Linked DNA regions of Homo sapiens. The protein of the gene in region 4 purifies or fractionates together with the protein of the main gene of each other region. This does not show direct contact. Each region holds a gene or a part of one and is shown on either strand. Other genes may lie near its edges.

What was found. The genes of interacting proteins can lie anywhere in the genome.
Region 1: the proteins of B3GALT2 (region 4) and GNPTG purify together in Homo sapiens (affinity purification with mass spectrometry, with the first as the bait; one large-scale study listed by BioGRID). This does not show direct contact.
Region 2: the proteins of B3GALT2 (region 4) and IPO13 purify together in Homo sapiens (affinity purification with mass spectrometry; 3 studies listed by BioGRID and IntAct, with this or other methods). This does not show direct contact.
Region 3: the proteins of B3GALT2 (region 4) and TMEM259 purify together in Homo sapiens (affinity purification with mass spectrometry; 3 studies listed by BioGRID and IntAct, with this or other methods). This does not show direct contact.

What each region holds. Positions count from the first base shown.
Region 1 is NC_000016.10:1,357,606-1,361,930, forward strand, and holds part of GNPTG (N-acetylglucosamine-1-phosphotransferase subunit gamma precursor), read left to right. Parts: intron 1-4,137; coding exon 4,138-4,192; intron 4,193-4,266; coding exon 4,267-4,325. UniProt on the Homo sapiens protein: Non-catalytic subunit of the N-acetylglucosamine-1-phosphotransferase complex, an enzyme that catalyzes the formation of mannose 6-phosphate (M6P) markers on high mannose type oligosaccharides in the Golgi apparatus.
Region 2 is NC_000001.11:43,959,625-43,963,949, reverse strand, and holds part of IPO13 (importin-13), read right to left. Parts: intron 3,702-4,325; coding exon 3,621-3,701; intron 3,075-3,620; coding exon 2,937-3,074; intron 2,785-2,936; coding exon 2,688-2,784; intron 1-2,687. UniProt on the Homo sapiens protein: Functions in nuclear protein import as nuclear transport receptor. Serves as receptor for nuclear localization signals (NLS) in cargo substrates.
Region 3 is NC_000019.10:1,011,124-1,015,448, reverse strand, and holds part of TMEM259 (membralin), read left to right. Parts: intron 1-975; coding exon 976-1,257; intron 1,258-2,090; coding exon of another isoform or gene 2,091-2,108; coding exon 2,109-2,208; intron 2,209-2,875; coding exon 2,876-2,986; intron 2,987-3,260; coding exon 3,261-3,383; intron 3,384-3,456; coding exon 3,457-3,557; intron 3,558-3,650; coding exon 3,651-3,708; intron 3,709-3,785; coding exon 3,786-3,869; intron 3,870-3,949; coding exon 3,950-4,082; intron 4,083-4,253; coding exon 4,254-4,325. UniProt on the Homo sapiens protein: May have a role in the ERAD pathway required for clearance of misfolded proteins in the endoplasmic reticulum (ER). Promotes survival of motor neurons, probably by protecting against ER stress.
Region 4 is NC_000001.11:193,177,607-193,181,949, forward strand, and holds the end of B3GALT2 (beta-1,3-galactosyltransferase 2), read right to left. Parts: intron 4,077-4,343; 5' UTR 3,957-4,076; coding exon 2,688-3,956; 3' UTR 1,124-2,687; downstream 1-1,123. UniProt on the Homo sapiens protein: Beta-1,3-galactosyltransferase that transfers galactose from UDP-galactose to substrates with a terminal beta-N-acetylglucosamine (beta-GlcNAc) residue. Can also utilize substrates with a terminal galactose residue, albeit with lower efficiency.

The DNA.
Region 1 (4,325 bases), on a different chromosome or scaffold from region 4:
CGGGTTCACGCCATTCTCCTGCCTCAGCCTCCTGAGTAGCTGGGACTACAGGCGCCCGCCACCATGCCCGGCTAATTTTTTGTGTTTTTAACAGAGACGGGGTTTCACCGTGTTAGCCAGGACGGTCTCGATCTCCTGACCTCGTGATCTGCCCGCCTCGGCCTCCCACAGTGCTGGGATGACAGTCATGAGCCACCGCGCCTGGCCTCGACTTTATTATTAATACGGTAAAACTACAGAGAGTTTGAAACATCAGTCTGGGGCGTCCTCCTCTAACCAGTGCACTTGCTGCTGCAGCGCAGGCCCTTCAGGGGACGGGGATGGGGGCCAGTCCCCTCCCTGCCTCCACGGCCCAAGCCCCAGCCTTCCCCACAGTCCTGGAGGATGGCCCGTGGCTGACAGTCTCGGTGGGCGCTGTGTTAAGGTGGCGTCCCCAGCCAGGTCCCGACTCCCCAGCTTAAAGAACAGGGTGGCTGCTGTGGCTTGACTCACGAGTTGCCACTGGCCTTGATGTGTACACGCCCTTGCTCTAGCACTGCCTGGGGCTGGCCTGGCTGGAGGGTAGGGACGCTGCACGCCTTCCCTCTTCCCCCAGGCGCTGGTGACACTGCCCTGCAACCGTCAGCACCATCATCTCCACAACTTGCTCTGTCCCCTTCAAACCCTGACTCCCAGCTGCCCCGCTCCCCCAGCCCCGGCACCCACCATTCTGCTGTCTCTGAACTTGGCTATTCATAGACGTCACATAGGTGACTCATAACTGTGTGCGACCTTTTGTGTCTGACCAACTCCTCTTGGCACAGTGTCCCCAAGGTCCCCCAGGCTGGAGGCTCTCAGTGCTTCCTTTTTATATGGCTGAGGACTGTTCCACTGCAAGGACAGACCACGTTGTTGTTTACCCGTCATCTGTCCATGGACACTGGAGTGGCTTCCACCCTCTGCCTGGGAATAGGCTGCTGTGAACTTGGGTGTAAATATTTGAGTCTCTGCTTCCAATTTCTGAGAGTAGCTTTGCTGGATCTTATTAGAATTCCATGTTTAGCTTTTTGAGGAACCACCAAACTGTTTGCATAGTGGCTGCACCGTTTCCCATTCCAGCCAGCATTGCACGAGGGGTCCAGTTTCTCCACATTTTCACCAACACTGTTTTTTGCTAACAGCCATCCTAGTGGGTGTGAAGCGGTACCTTAGGGTTGTTTTAATTTGCATTTCCCTAATGATCAGTCATGTGGGATCTTTTCAGTTGCTTATGGTGTTTGTCCTTTTTTTTTTTTGAGATGGAGTCTCACTCTGTGGCCCAGACTGGAGTACAGTGGCGCCATCTTGGCTCACTGCAAGCTCTGCCTCCCAGGCTCAGGCGATTCTCCTGCCTCAGCCTCTCAAGTAGCTGGGATTACAGGCGTGAGCCACCACACCTGGCTCATTTTTATTTAGTAGAGACGGGGTTTCACCATGTTGGCCAGGCTGGTCTCAAACTCCTGACCTCATGATCCGCCTGCCTCGGCCTCCCGAAGTGCTGGGATTCCCGGCTTCTCTGCCCATTTTTAACTTGAGTTTATTGTTGGGCTGTAGTTCTGTGTTCTGGATGTGAGTCTCTTACATACGTGGTTTGCCAGTGTTTATTTTCTCCCATTCTGTGGGTTGTCTTTTCACTCCCTTGATGGGTTTGTTTTTTTTTCCATATAGAGTCTAACTCTGTAGCCCAGGCTGGAGTGCAGTAGCACGATCTTGGCTCACGGCAACCTCTCCACCTCCCAGGCTCAAGGAATTCTCCTGCCTCAGCCTCCCGAGTAGCTGGGACTGCAGGCATCCGCCATCACGCCTGGCTAATTTTTTTGTACTTTATTAGAGATCAGGTTTCACCATGTTGGCCAGGATGGTCTCGATCTCCTGACTTCGTGATCCGTCTGCCTCGGCCTCCCAAAGCACTGGGATTACAGGCGTGAGACCCTGCGCCCGGCCTCTATGCCAGTCTTTATGCCAGTATCACACTGTTTTGATCATAACAGCTTTGAAGTAATTTTTGGAATCAGTATGTACGAGTCTCTCAACTCTGTCTTTAAGATTTGTTCGATGATTTGGGGTCCTCTGAGACTCCCTATGAACTTTAGGATGTGTTTTTCTATTTCTGCAAAAACTGTCATTGGGGTTTTGATGGGGTTGCATTGAATCTGCAGATCACTCTGGGTGGTATTGTCATCTTAAAAATATTGAATCCATCAGGCTGGGCGCTGGGGCTCACGCCTGTAATCCCAGTACTTTAGGAGGCTGAGGCAGGTGGATCACCTGAGGTCAGGAGTTTGAGACCATCCTGGCCAACATGGAGAAACCCCGTCTCTACAAAAATACAAAAATTAGCCAGCCGTGATGGCAGGCACCGGTAATCCTAGCTACTGGGGAGACTGAGGCGGGAAAATCGGTTGAACCCAGTGGTGGAGATTGTAGTGAGCCAAGATCGTGCCACTGCAATCCAGCCTGGCGACAATGCTAGACTCCGTCTCAAAAAAAAAAAAGTGGCGTATGGATGTCTCATGTCAGCTTTATGTAGTGGGTGGCACTGTTTGTGCGTGGATAATTGTGGTGTCTTGGCACATTGACCCTTTTATCAATGTATAACATCTTTGTCTCTTAAAATAGTTTCAGCCACTTCAGCTCTCTTTTGCCTGTTTATATGAATACTTTTCCATACCTTCACTTTCAACCTGTTTATGTCTTTAAATCTGAAGTTAGTCTTTCAGGCCGGGCATAGTGGCTCACACCTGTAATCCCAGCACTTGGGAGGCCAAGGTGGACGGATCACTTCAGGTCCACAGTTGCAGACCAGCCTGGCCAACACAGTGAAACCCCGCCTCTGCTGAAGATACAAAAATTAGCTGGGCGTGGTGGCGGGCACGTGGGATCCCAGCTACTCGGGAGGCTGAGGCAGGGGAATCACTTGAACCCAGGAGGCGGAGGTTGCAGTGAGCCGAGATCGCGCCACTGCATTTCACCTTGGGTGACAGAGTGAGACTGTCTCCAAAAGAAAAAAAAGAATCTAATGCCTGATGAGCTGAGGTGGAACAGTTTCATCCCCAAACCACCCATCCCCACCCCCGGCTGGTAGAAAAACTGCCTTCCATGAAACCAGTCCCTGGTGCCAAAAAGATTGGGGACCACTGGTTTAAGTCCTGTAGCTTTACAGACCATAGCTAGAAAGGCAACTGGTATTAATTCACCCTGCACGAGGACCTCCGTCTGCCTCCGCTGAGCTGCTGTCTGCTCACTTCCCCGGGTGGCACACCGGCCTGCATGTAACCAACTCCTGAAGCTTTTATCTGGGAATGTCCTCTTTTTTGGGGGGTGGGGAAGACAGGGTCTTGCTCTGTCACGCAGGCTGGAGTGCAGTGGTACGATCTCAGCTCACTGCACTCTCCACCTCCTGGGTTCAAGAGATTCTCCTGCCTCAGCCTCCTGAGTAGCTGGGATTACAGGTGCGCGCCACTACACTCAGCTCATTTTTTCTGTGTGCTTTTTGTGTAGACACGGGGTTCTCACAGTGTTGCCCAGGCTGGTGTCATACTCCTGGCCTCAAGCAATCTTCCCGCCTTGGCCTCCCAAAGTGCTGGGATTACAGGCATGAGCCACGATAGCAAGCCTTAACTCTAATTTTTGAAGGGCTATTTTTAGAATTCTCGGTTTTGTCAGTTTCTTCCATTGAATGGTACCTGTTTTCCTGTTTCTTTGAACGTCTTGTGCTTTTTGTTGAAAACTGGTCCTTGGCCGGGCGCGGTGGCTCAAACCTGTAATCCCAGCACTTTGGGAGGCCGAGGTGGGTGGATCACGAGGTCAGGAGATCGAGACCATCCTGGCTAACGCGGTGAAACCCCGTCTCTACTAAAAATACAAAAAATTAGCCGGGCATGGTGGCGGGCGCCTGTAGTCCCAGCTACTTGGGAGGCTGAGGCAGGAGAATGGCGTGAACATGGGAGGCGGAGCTTGAAGTGAGCCAAGATCATGCCACTGCACTCCAGCCTGGGTGACAGAGTGAGACTCCATCTCAAAAAAAAAGAAAACTGGTCCTTTGAAAACAGACTCTGCCAGTCTTTGCAGACAGGTTCTGTGCTTGGACCCTGGGGATCAGTGTGAGGTCTCTTCCAGGACCCGTGCATCTCTTCCGACTCTCGGGCAAGTGCTTCAGCCTGGTGGAGTCCACGTGAGTGCAGGGTGGGTGCGAGGGTGGGCTGGGGCGCAGCCTGCGGACCCCCCTCATGCCATCTGTGTCCCCAGGTACAAGTATGAGTTCTGCCCGTTCCACAACGTGACCCAGCACGAGCAGACCTTCCGCT
Region 2 (4,325 bases), about 150 Mb from region 4:
ACCACACTTACTGTGGCCTCTGGCAGGTTGGGGTAGCCCTACACTGCTCCTAGCACATACCTCCCATCAGCCAGTCATTGAAGAGGAAAGCTGGGATGGCGGTGGGGGGGTGGGGGAGTCAGTCCTTGGTATCTCCTTTTGAGGTTTATCTGAGGGCCCTAGAAAGGCCAGGGCATCAGAGCCTGAGTAAGTGCCACCTCACTTCAATGGCCTTAGGGCTCTTGGTCTGGCAAAGGAAAATAATCTATTCAGTCCACTTAAACCACAGGACTCTTGCTTAGGTAGGGCAGTGCCCAGCATGCTCTGGAGATGGCCTGGCAAGTCACTGGCAGGGCCCAGAGGAGGAAACAGTATCATAAGGCCAAAAACAAGAGCCCCACCCCAGCAAACCTCCTCCACATGGACATGGACTCTGCAGAGAGCCAAGCTCAGGGCTGAGGACTAGTTCCCATCATCTGGACATGCCAAGAAACAGGGAAACAAGAAACATGTCATCCTATGGTCCAGTGGGAAGGCAGAGCCCGAGGAAGGAATGGCTAAGATTGGGATGGCATAACAGGTATGGGAGCCATCCTGTCCAGCGAGACAACCAACAAGCCCAACGTATATGATGTTGGACACTGCTGCCTCCAGTTCTGATCATTCCTGAGGCAAGAATATGGCATGCACCTGGAGCTCCTACCCAGGCTTCTCCACTCTCAGGAGGATGTGGTACAAAACCATCTGCCTAAGACACCACTAAGTAGCTGTGTGATCTTGCGCAAGCCACAAATGCTCAGTTTCCCCATCTGTAAAGCAGATAATCTCTGCCCTGCTTCCTTCTCTAGGCTATGAAGAGTCACCAATAAAGTCTGTCCCTTTGGTATCTGAACCCTGAGTTATTTAAGTCCTAGAAAGTGAGGCCCAGTGTGCACCATGCAGGTTTGATATTCAGCAGCCACCCTGCTAGAGGTGGGCCAGAAAATGAGAAGGAAAGGTTCCAAGGGCAGGGAGCCCTCCCCCTCCTTTATTTAACAGTGTCTGTGGCCTGCTGTATTCTGGCCTCATTCTGGGCACTGGGGATGCAGAGAGAAGAAACTCAACCCTACCCTTGAGGGGCTTAAGTCTAGTAAGAGAGACAGACATGAAAGCTGATTATTGTGTGTGATCAGTGCTGTGTCAGCAGTGTGTATGGGATGCAGTTTCAGTACAGTTAGAAGCACCCAATTCTGCCTCAGAGAGAAATTACTCTGAGAAGTGATGCAGTCTTCCTCCTTTCTAAGGCATGAAGGAGTGAGAGTTCACCCAGTAAAGGGCATAGGACATTCCAGTCAGAGGAGCAAGGCACAGGGATCAAATGGGACACGGTAAGGAAGAGGCAGTGTGGCTGAAATGTTGGAGTCATGAGGACATTGGCAGGAGAGGACATTAGAGGCATGCCAGAGCCTTGTCATGTGGGTGGGAATGGAACAATAAGCTGAGGGCAATGGGAACAATGAAAGGGTTTTAAGCCCGGGATGACAAATGCTCAGATTTGTGTTTTTATGAAGATTATAGCTGCAGTGTGCAGAACAGATTGGAGAGAAGGGGAGATGCCAAGAAAACCCACTAGAAGGTTGCTGATAATCCAGGTGAGACCCTAAACTGAGGCAGTGGCCACGGAGGTGGGTAGAAGTGGACCAACCGAGAGAGAATCAGGAGTCAGGATCAATGGGGCTTGTCCCAGATTGGGTACAGGGAGTTGGGAGAGGTGGAGTTGAGGATGACCACACCAGGTTTCTGGTTCAGTTTTCTCCCCAGTTTGGACCTACTCCATGGCCCACAGAAACAGAGGCCAGGATCATGAGACCAGGCACTGAGGATATGAGCTGCGAGTACTCTGGGCACCAACCGAGACCCCTGGTGAGCCTCAAACCTGTGACCATGAATCCAGGCAAGGCTCATGAGGCTAGCTGAGCAGTGCTGTTTTTTTGTTTTTGTTTCTCCAAACTGGAAGCCTGGATTAGACAACACGAGAAGCCTGAATGAAGCCCCTGCTGCCAACTCTCTCAGGCAAAGGGCCACAGTGAGTAGAGGGCTAGGACCACAGCCAAAGGTACTTGACTTCTGGCCTAGAAAGTACTAAGCCTTGATGCAGGGAAAGGAACCAACAGTCTCTGAGTACTTCACTGTGCAAAAGCCCCTGAGCCAAGGGCCCAGAAGATGTGACTTTAATACCTGTAAACAATCATTTCAAGTATATGTTATCTCCGTTTCACAGATATGGAAATGAAGGCCCAGCAAAGGTAAGTGACTTGCCCAAGGACACACAACTAGTTGGTGGTGATGAACTTAGAATCTAGGTCTAGCTGACTTCAAAAGCCCGTGCTCTTTCCACTTTTCATTATATCCCAAAGTAAAGGAGCCAGCCTAGTGCCCCAAGCCCCTCAGAGCCTCTGCCCACCTCCCACCCCCACTTCCTTCTTCCATATCCAGACTGGCCCTGAGCCCAGCAGGCCAGCAGAAGACATCATTCACCCTCTTATCCACTTCAACCTAAAGTTTCAACTATTTATAAGGTGTTGTGCTTGATCTCACAGGTTTCCCATCAAGTCCCACGTGTGACTCAGGGGACAGAGAAGAACAGAGTGGGCAGCTTTGGCTCCCCATTTGGGGAAGCAGAGGCAGTGGCAGTGGCAGCAGCAGCAGAGACCCCGGTCAGGACCTACCTTGCTGGAAGAGAGTGAGTGTGACGGAGGTGACGAGCAGGAAGAGGGCCTCAATTGGGGGAAAGTGGGCAGGCTCATGAGCAAAGATGTGGACCAGCTACGAGAAAGCAGGGAATGCTGGTCAGCTGAGACCCAGTCTCACCAGGACATGGCAATATCCCTGGAATGCAAGTGGGGACCCCAGCCACGGCAGCCATCTGACCCACCCCCACCCAGGGTCAGGATCTCTGCCCCAACCAGAAGGCCCACCTGTCGAGTGAGGTCAAGAGCAGAGGCCTGGGGGATGGTGCTGTACATCCGACCCAGCATCTCACACAGCTGTGGCACCATGGGGGCAAAGTCATCCAGCAGCGTCTTAACAGACTTCTCAAAGATAGCGCACACCGCCTTGGGAAGAAAGCAAAGGGGCCCTGGTCAGCAGGTCATGACTGGCTGGAACAGCGCTGAAGCCCTGCACAGAGGGGGCCTACGATTGGGCCCTTACCTATAAGCCTTGCCTGGCCCTGCAAACCAAGGAAGGTAAGCAAGTCTGACCCTCACCCTGAAAGGCAGGGGGCAAAGGCCCTTCACTGAGGGGCACAGGATGTAACTGTGGAACTTAACTCCTGCGACTTACATCTCTAACATTTCCTCTCAGGGAGCAGCAACAGCAACAAAAACCTGAATTGAAAAGGGACCAAAGGCAGGTCTTTGGTGCTAAAACAGATGCCTGACTGTCACTCGACCCTAATATTAGAGTCCTTACGTTAAGCACTTCTCATGATATTGGGGAGTTCTAAATGTCTTCCCAAAAGATTCCTTATCTCTATGGGGCAGGATTCACCTCCCTTGTTTTCTCCAAACCATTGTAAGCTGAAGTGTGGCAGTAACATCTTACCCTGCTACACCTCTGAGCAGTCACTATGGGAGCGGAGGGCAAGGGTCAGGGCTCACCTCCACAACCTGGGCATCATTCAACCATTTGCTCAGCACCTTCTGGATAAGCTGGAAGACCTGCTGCAGCACCACCACCACCTGAAGGCACAGGAAGAAGTGAGGCGCTTCTGCTATCCATCACTGTGACCCACTTGAGGAGGACTTGGTGGCAGGGAGGAGGGGAGCAGTTCAGACCTATTACCCCAGAACACACATTGAGGACCCAGGGCATGGGACCCCTGGGGGAAGAAGTGGTTTGCTGAACTCTCTCATGAATGAAAAAGGAGTATTTCCTGAATTCTAGGGATCATCTCAAAGGAAGCCTCAAACTGCAAAGCAGAGATATCACAAGTGCTTCATAAGGTTACAAAAACTTTGTAAACTTAAAAAAAAATCTCTCCCTATCTCTGCTCTGTAAAACCAAGGCTATGGGCTAGCCTCTGAAGAAGTGGAGATGCTATCTCCTCCAAATAGGCTTGAGGTAGGGAGCCCCAAGGAATGCACAGATGCAGGCTTAAGCTGCTCTCCCAGCTTATGGAGGAGCAGAGAGCAGACTGAGGTCCTGGGAGGTGAGGAAAGGCAGGATGATGACTACCATGTAAAGAAGCAGCTCTGTGGGATGACAGTGGCCCAGGGGTGGTCTAAAGCCAAGAGGCTAACTGAAACTGGGTTGGGGAGTTAAGCAGAGAGGCCAGGATGCCTATGGCTTCCTTTTCTCCTGGA
Region 3 (4,325 bases), on a different chromosome or scaffold from region 4:
ACTCTGAGTTGTGCCTGCAGCACGCTGGGGCGTGGGCTCCCCAAGCCCTGTGGACGTCGGGGTGGGGCCGTCCTGGGCACTGCGGGGTGCCGAGCAGCATCCCTGGCCTCACCCACTCCATGCCAGGAGCTCCCCCAATTGTGACAACCACAGATGTCCCAAGCATCCCCTGGGCAGGAGCCCCCAGGTGAGAGCTGCTGGCACCCCAGTTCATAGGTTGTGCCTCGGGCACGGCAGCCTCGCCCTGCCGTGGGGCGCTCTGCCCAGCCACGGAGGTCCACTGTGTCCCCAGCAGCTGCGGCTGGCCCCGCCAGGCCTGGGAGGGTTGCACAGGGCGCCCCGCCAGGTGAGAGAAGCTATTTTCAGGTGGTGAGATCAGGGGAGTGCTGGGGACGCAGCGGAAGGTGAGGCAGGAAGCAGCAGGTTGGGCTGTGGAGGGCTGTGCCCTCTTTCGTAGACAGTGGGTCCAGCTGGTGGCCCTGGGGTGGCGGCAACACCCATGCTGCTGCTTGCAGGGCGGGAGCCGTTGGCTGGCAGAGGGCCCTGGTGTGCTCCACTTGGTGGGTCTGAGTCCAGCCTCGTCTCCTCCCAGGTTTGGGGGGTCCTGTGTGCATCTGAGAGGGCCCCGGCCTGCTGGCTTCGTCCGGCTCACCCCTGAGGAGGTGCGGGGCAGTCACAGGCCTTGCCGAAGCCCCAGGGCCTGTCAGAGCCGGGCTGCAGGTGGCAGAGCCCCTCCGGGGTTGGAGTGGGGCGTCCCCCGGATCCTCAGTCACTTGGACTATGTGAGGGGCTGGCCCGGTGCAGTCAGCGTGGGAGGGACCCAGGGTCCTCAGAGCCCAATTCGGCTTCTGGGGTTTCCTTCCTTTCCCCGTCCTGGGCGTCCCAGCGCGCCCCATCACGCCCCATCACGTAGGCCCTTGGGTGTCGGCTGCAGCTGGCCCTGGGGCGCCCCACTGACTGCCGGCCGCCCCCTAGGCCCTGTTTGTGCTCTTCGTCCTGGCCTACATCCACATCGTCTTCTCCCGCTCGCCCATCAACTGCCTGGAGCATGTGCGTGACAAGTGGCCGCGTGAGGGCATCCTGCGTGTGGAAGTGCGGCACAACTCGAGCCGCGCGCCCGTCTTCCTACAGTTCTGTGACAGCGGCGGCCGCGGGAGCTTCCCGGGCCTGGCCGTGGAACCAGGCAGCAACCTGGACATGGAAGATGAGGAGGAGGAAGAGCTGACCATGGAGATGTTTGGGAACAGCTCCATCAAGGTGAGCCAGGCCTGGGCTCAGCTGCAGCAGAGGCCAGCGCCCCGTAGATGCTGGTCGCTGAAGGGGCGGTTCCTGACATCGACAGGATGTTGGGGTTCTTGACTTTCAGGGACCTGGCATGCAGACAAGGCCGCCCCTGCCTGCCGTGGCCTTTTGGTGGCCTGGGGGCTCTGAAGCAAGACCCTCGGCCTGTCGCCCTGCTAGAGGCCTGGGCAGGGCAGGGGGATCTCGGGGAGGACTTGGGCTGGGCAGACTCGGGCCTTTGAGAGTAGCTGTTCCGGGGAGGGGATTGGCTGGGGCTGGGGATGCAGTGGGCAGCAATAGCTGAGGAGGCCTGGGGGCTGAAAGCTAAGAGCTCTGGGCCCATCCTGGCCGTCCTGAGGTGGCCCCACTGCCTGCAGAGGTGCTGGGTTCCCGGTCAGCTTGTGGTGGCCTTGGGCACTGGTGGGACCAGGTGGCTGTGTTGGGCCCCACAGCCTGGTGGGAGATGTTTTTGCTTCAGCAGTCAGGGTTTGGGGTCCCACCTGTTCCCACAGAGCCAACCCCAAGAGTTTGAGTGTTTGGGCAGAGCATCATGGACCCTTCCATGGGGTCTACTGCCTGTAGCTGGCCCTTGCCTCAGCTTCAGGATTCAGAGCTGTGCTGGAGATGGCCTCACAGCAGGGCAGGCTTGGTGTTGAGGTGGGGTCCCAGCTGAGGCGGGAGGCACACGTAGTCCACCCTGGCCTGGTCAGTGGTGGGGCAGAGGCTGAGGCTTCCAGTCCCTTCCCATTAGCAGGACTGTATCCTCAGGCTGGGCCCTCACAGCCCGGGCTGGCGCTGCTGACACCCAGGTCCCTGGTCGCCCACAGTTTGAGCTGGACATCGAGCCCAAGGTGTTCAAGCCGCCGAGTAGCACAGAGGCCCTGAATGACAGCCAGGAGTTCCCCTTCCCCGAGACGCCCACCAAAGGTAGGCCACCCACCAAAGGTGTACTGCCTCACGGGGTTGCCTCAGTCATGGGGTGCTGGGGTGCAGGCGGGGTCCCTCCGAACATCCCCAGCCTGCTGGCTGCATGTCCTGGACCGTTGAGGGCACCCCCGTGCCTCGATTTCCCCATCTGTCAGCACAGGAGGCTGTGGGGACACCCCAGAGCCTGGGGTAACTGGCTCAGCTCATCCTTTCTGGGATCCTCGTGAACGGCGACTTGGAGGGGATGGATCCCTTCGGCTCTGAGCTCAGAGTTCTAGCGGGCTGTGCTCAGGGAAGCCCCCGCCCCCGCCCCCACCCCTGCCCATCTGGCAGCAGAGGGTCTATCCAGAGGGCCGGGGCCTCTGAAGTGTTGGGGGTGTGCTGGGGGCCGCCAGGGCAGTGGGGCAGCCCTGCACCCAGCCAGCCCCAGCCAGGGAGAGGGGGCCACGGGAGGAGGAGCCTGGCCAGCCTCTGCAGTGCACAGGGCAGGACACCAGCTTGAGTGGGCACCATCCCAAGTGTCCATGTAGGGGTCCTCCCAGCACCCACCTGGGGCCCAGGGCTCAGCAGGTCTCACCCTCCACCCCTCAACGCCTGCCTTGCCTGCTGGCAGTGGGCGGGGGACGTGTGTGGGGGCGCTGACCTGGTCCCTGGTTCTGCCCTGCAGTGTGGCCGCAGGACGAGTACATCGTGGAGTACTCACTAGAGTATGGCTTCCTTCGCCTGTCGCAGGCCACCCGCCAGCGCCTGAGCATCCCCGTCATGGTGGTCACCCTGGGTGAGTCTGAGCTGCTGGGCTTGGGGAGCTCCATGGCGGGGCCTCCCCTCCTCCCTCGGGTCTCCTCCTGCTGGTGCGGGACGGGGGGCTGTGCAGGAAGCACTGGGGTCTGCCCCGCCCCAGGCACGCTTCCCAGGGCTGGGGTCCTGGATGGGTTTCCTAAGAATGGGCAGGGCCAGGAAGCAGGCCAGGCCTCAGCAATGGAGCCAGCTGGGGCAGGGCCCAGGGGGTGGCCTGGGCGGGGCTCCCGGCTCCCTGATTCACCCACCCGCAGACCCCACGCGGGACCAGTGCTTCGGGGACCGCTTCAGCCGCCTGCTGCTGGATGAGTTCCTGGGCTACGATGACATCCTCATGTCCAGCGTGAAGGGCCTGGCCGAGAACGAGGAGAACAAGGGTGAGGCATGCCCCGGGGCCGAGGGTGCGAGGGCGCGGGTGGGGGCGGGCGCTCACGGCTCCTTCTGCTGCAGGCTTCCTGCGGAATGTGGTGTCGGGCGAGCACTACCGCTTTGTGAGCATGTGGATGGCGCGGACGTCCTACCTGGCCGCCTTCGCCATCATGGTCATCTTCGTGAGTGCCTCGGGGCGGGTGCGGGGGCTGGCCGGGCGGGAGCCAAGCAGGCCCTCGCAGCCCCTCATAGCGCTTCCTGCGCGCCCCTTGCAGACGCTGAGCGTGTCCATGCTGCTGCGGTACTCACACCACCAGATCTTCGTCTTCATCGGTGAGTGTCCCGCCGGCGCAGGGCGGGGCGGGCGTCCTCCAGGCCCTCACCGGGCGCCCGCCGCCCTGTGCCCGCAGTGGACCTGCTGCAGATGCTGGAGATGAACATGGCCATCGCCTTCCCCGCAGCGCCCCTGCTGACCGTCATCCTGGCCCTCGTCGGTGAGGACCCCACCCGGCCTCCCCCGCCCCGCGCTGCACCCCGCCCCGCCCGCTTCAACCGGCGCCGCCTCTCCCTGCAGGGATGGAGGCCATCATGTCGGAGTTCTTCAACGACACCACCACCGCCTTCTACATCATCCTCATCGTGTGGCTCGCGGACCAGTATGACGCCATCTGCTGCCACACCAGCACCAGCAAGCGGCATTGGCTGCGGTGAGCGTGGCGCGGGGGCAGGGTGGAGTGGGTGCTGGTGGGCAGGGGTAGGGGGCTGCCAGAGGGAGGGGCGCTGGAGGCGGGGGTGGTGGCTGCGCCACGCGGGAACCCCAGGGGCTGGGCCTGGCAGGGTGGGACCTGCAGCCCCGACGCCCTCACCCCGCCCCGCAGGTTCTTCTATCTCTACCACTTCGCCTTCTATGCCTATCACTACCGCTTCAATGGGCAGTATAGCAGCCTGGC
Region 4 (4,343 bases):
AACCTCTTACACGAGTCCTTCCTGTCTTAGTGTTGTTCCTGAGGGTTGTATGAGATCATGTATGTAAAGTGCTTTAACACAGTACCAAGCATACTGCTTGTACAATCAGTAAATAGTTTCTACTGCTGTTACTGGTATTATTTTTGTAGAATTTGCTGGAAATAGCACATTAATAAAATTGCAGTTGAGATTATATGTGATTATGCTGTATACAAAGAGGTGTGAGGAGAAATCTCAATTATTTGGTTGAATTAGAATTTCACCACTTATATACTTGATCAAAATAAATAAGTATTCTAAGTATTGAAAGTTTTGGTGTTTTCATCTTCTTAAGTACCTATTAACACTTTGAACATAAAGATTAGTTATTTGTGTACCCTTTGACCAAAAGCAAAGCTGTCATTTAAAATTATATTTTTATGTATATAAAAATCACATAGTGTCGGGATGAAGAAGACACAGTTAACAAGTGGTGAGATGTTTATATACACTATCAGCTTATTTTGCTTAAGAAAACGACTTGAGTATTGTTGCGGAAAAGTCAAAAGTAAATTAATAGAATATTTATTTTAAAGTAAGGATTTTCAACAGTACAAAGACACTTTACTGTTTGATCCAGTCGCCTTTGAGAGCTCACAGTGTCTGATATCAGATTACTATCGTTTTTCAAGATAATGTTAGGAATATAGAAATTTACATAGATTTTATAAATTTTATAGATTTTAAATTGAAACTTGAGATAGGAAGAATTTAGGTGTCTGTTATCTGTTTTTCATGAGTCATTTTTTAAAAAACTTTTTCCAGATGGAAATTACTATCTTTTAAAGATCCTGCAAAATAGTCATAATTTGGACAAATAGAACTTGAGTTCTCTTTCTATGTACACACCTGTGTATGCACACACACACACTGTTTTTAAAACTTTTGAAGCATAAATCAGCATTATTCTACACTGAGGGAAGGATTCCTTTTGTCTTCTGTCAAACATGCTGATCTGATTTGGTATTATCCCCTTATGTGTGACTTTTATTAAGTAATTCTGGTATTTCTGTAGTCATATAGAATAAATTAAGTGAAAGACAGGCTTGATCCAAGAGCTGGGGTGTGTTACATAGATCAGCTCTCAGAATCACTTGATTTAGAGTAGAACACTTAGGCTACTGATTTGAAATGGAGATAAGCACTTAAACAGTTTTAGTGTTTTCAAGTTTCACAAATGTTACAATTCTCTTCTGGTGATTTATCCCTTAATAATAGAATAAGAGGTAAAAATGATTGTTATTAGAATTAAGAAACATTCTGACTAAATTAAGATTGACAGATTTACATACTTGTATGGAATAAAAACACTATTTTAGTTAGTAGGTTGGTATTTCTTGATTTTAAAATTCATGATGGAGTCAAACAAAATTATTGTGAAAATACTTATAACACTCAGTAAAGTTTTTTGTTTTCCTTTATTTTTAAAAACTTCATAAAAGTGCATTGTATACATTGTTCATCCTAGAATTGTGTTTGTCAAACGTTTGTAGTTTTCCCCATCCCTCCCAAAAAGGTTTTTAATTGGTGATTCAGAATATTTGTCATCTACCAAATTAAAAACTGCAGGTTTGCAAACTTGGCACTCCAAGAAAGAAATAGGTGCCATAAAATGATTAAGTGTTGGCATGTGTACACCTGCTGTCAGGAAATAAACTTCCCGTATGTTGCATTTTGGCAGACATGCATCTTAAAAATGTGTTGAATGAAACTGCACCTGCACTCTTTATCTTTTTCAACAGTACATCCTATTTGTGCCTTTAAGTGATTACTTTTGCTTCGATTATCTTTACAGATATATTCGAAGTTAGATATACATGAAATTAAATGGTGGTGCTGTTTAAGAGTGCAGTAATTGGTCTAATCCAATAACTCATTGAAATAGGAGTTTGGTTCTTAACATCAATGAGGAAACAAAACTTGTCTATTTTGAAACATTTAATAACTATAAAAACTTGAGCCTGAGACACATTAGTTTTTCACATTTTACCACGTCATGTCAAAATAATTTTCCCCCATATATTAATAAAAGAAAGTATTAATAAAAGAAATTTAAAATAATATCTCAGTTATTTTTAAAAAGTAAATACTTTCGTGAGAACTGCATTGATGAAACATCTGAACTTTATAATGTGTTTGTGGAATAACTCAACTAAATCTTATTGCATTTAGAACCCTAAAATAGGTCAAAAAATTTATCCTTTGCACAATTAAAAAGTTTCCTTAAAATTGATAGTGATGTTTTATTTACATTAAATTATATATTAAAATGAAAAGCTTAATCTAAAATGAAGGATCTTTTGACTGTCATTTCTTGAATTAAAATTTATGTGGAAAACATATGCAGATACATTTTATTGGCCCCTAACAGAAGACTTGAACCATTGATTTATGCATGCTTGTTATTGCATGTTAATACACAGAATCTCCTTATACAGTTTTTTAAATAGATTGTTTTGGGAAACCTTTTTTGTTATATAATGTTATAGTTTTAAGAATTAACTTCTTCAGAAATTAAAAAAATACTTCTTGAATTTCTTTATGTGATGAGTTTTAACTAAAACTTGTCCTACGGATGTAATCAGTTCTAACTATACATGCTTTTAGCAATATTTACAAATTGCACATTTGAAAAAAAATTGTCTTTTCTAATGTAGTTTACGGTGGCGATACCTGCCTGCCTTTTCTTTTGCTGCGTTGGCACAGGCATTGTGCTTATTTTGTTGTAAATGGTTCCAGTATTTTATCAGTTCACTAGGCTGGAACTGATGAGAGGTAATTAGGTGGCTGTATTTACAGCTCGAATAAGAGACTCGCCAGTGATTGAACACAAACTCATTGGGAGGGGGTACAGGATCAATTCTCAACTTGGCAAGACAGATCCCTACATATACATCTTCCAAGTGCAAACGGCGGATACCTAAAGAAACTTTAAAAATCTTTTCTGCCAGATCTCCAGAAAAAACATAACCAGTTCCAGAACAGAAGACAGGATAACGCTCACTTGGGTAGAGGTCTGGTGGCATGTACCACTTGCTATCTTTGTTTCGATTGGGTGCATATCCTCGCATTAGGTAACCAGTGAAATAGTTATGTCTGGGAGGCAGATCTGGCTTCAGTAACTTATTGATTAAATATTCAGTGTTGACAAACATGTCACTGTCAGTTTTCATAACATATGGAATATGTGGACAGTATGTTGCAACCCAGTTCATGCCCATTAGTGTTTTAATGGTCAAATTATAGTACGTATCTAAGTATTCCTGTTGAATTATATCATGATATTGTCTGCTTTCTTCCAGTATTGCACGTTGAAGGTAGCCATTTAGCTTAATACTTAAGCCCAACAAAAATATTCTTGTGATTTGAATACCAGGTGCTAGACTTTCATTGCCCCAAGTTTGCCGAATAGCTCTTCTAGCTTCTATTTGTCCAGGCTCTGCAGCTATTAGTAGTATTAAAAAAGGACTTTTCTCTTGGCATTTTTCAGGCTCATTAATAATATATTTGAAATGGTAAGAATTTGGATGTCCAGTACCTTTTTCATTGTAAATACTTCCATTGGCACTAAGTGTATTCTCCAGGCCTGTAACTCCTTGTGGTGACAGGTCTGTGTTATTAGAGTTAGTTGCTGTTTGAGGCCTCAGGGTTTGAGGGACTGTTTCTTTCCAAATGTTCCGAAGGGAGCTGTGGTTTGTCTCACTTTTTGTTGACCGAAATCCTCGGAAAGTGTATGTCACAGGGTTTTCTTTGAATCCAGCTCTGCCTGGCAGCCAGTCATGATGATTGAAAAACAAAAACATAGCAAAAAGAAACACTAGAGAAAGTACTCCAATAAGATGAGTGCGGAACAGAGACCTTTTGGCATTCCAGGTCATCTTTGCAAAGCAGCAGTGTCTTCTCCTCCACTGAAGCATGTTGTAAATATCCAGTAGTGGTATATGAGAGATTGGTGACCAAAAATGTTTTCTTCTCCTTAATACTATTCTTTGGCAATCATTTTCTAATTCAGTCACATTGTCTCTCTTGTAGTCATTCTATAAAAATGAAGCACAAAAGTTTACAGAACTGCCTGAAAGGGACTTTGGGTACTAATATGATCAGGGCAAATAGGAATGTCTTAAGCTGTGAAAATATAACCCAGGAACGAAGCTTGTAATTTATTTCCCCTTGGCAACATAACATCACTGAGAACAAGATTAATTTATTTAAAAATATACCTTTGTAGCACAGTGAGCATTTTAAAGAGATGAGGTGATGGATTCATTTCATTGTCTTGTTACACTGGTCATTTGTACTTTTGA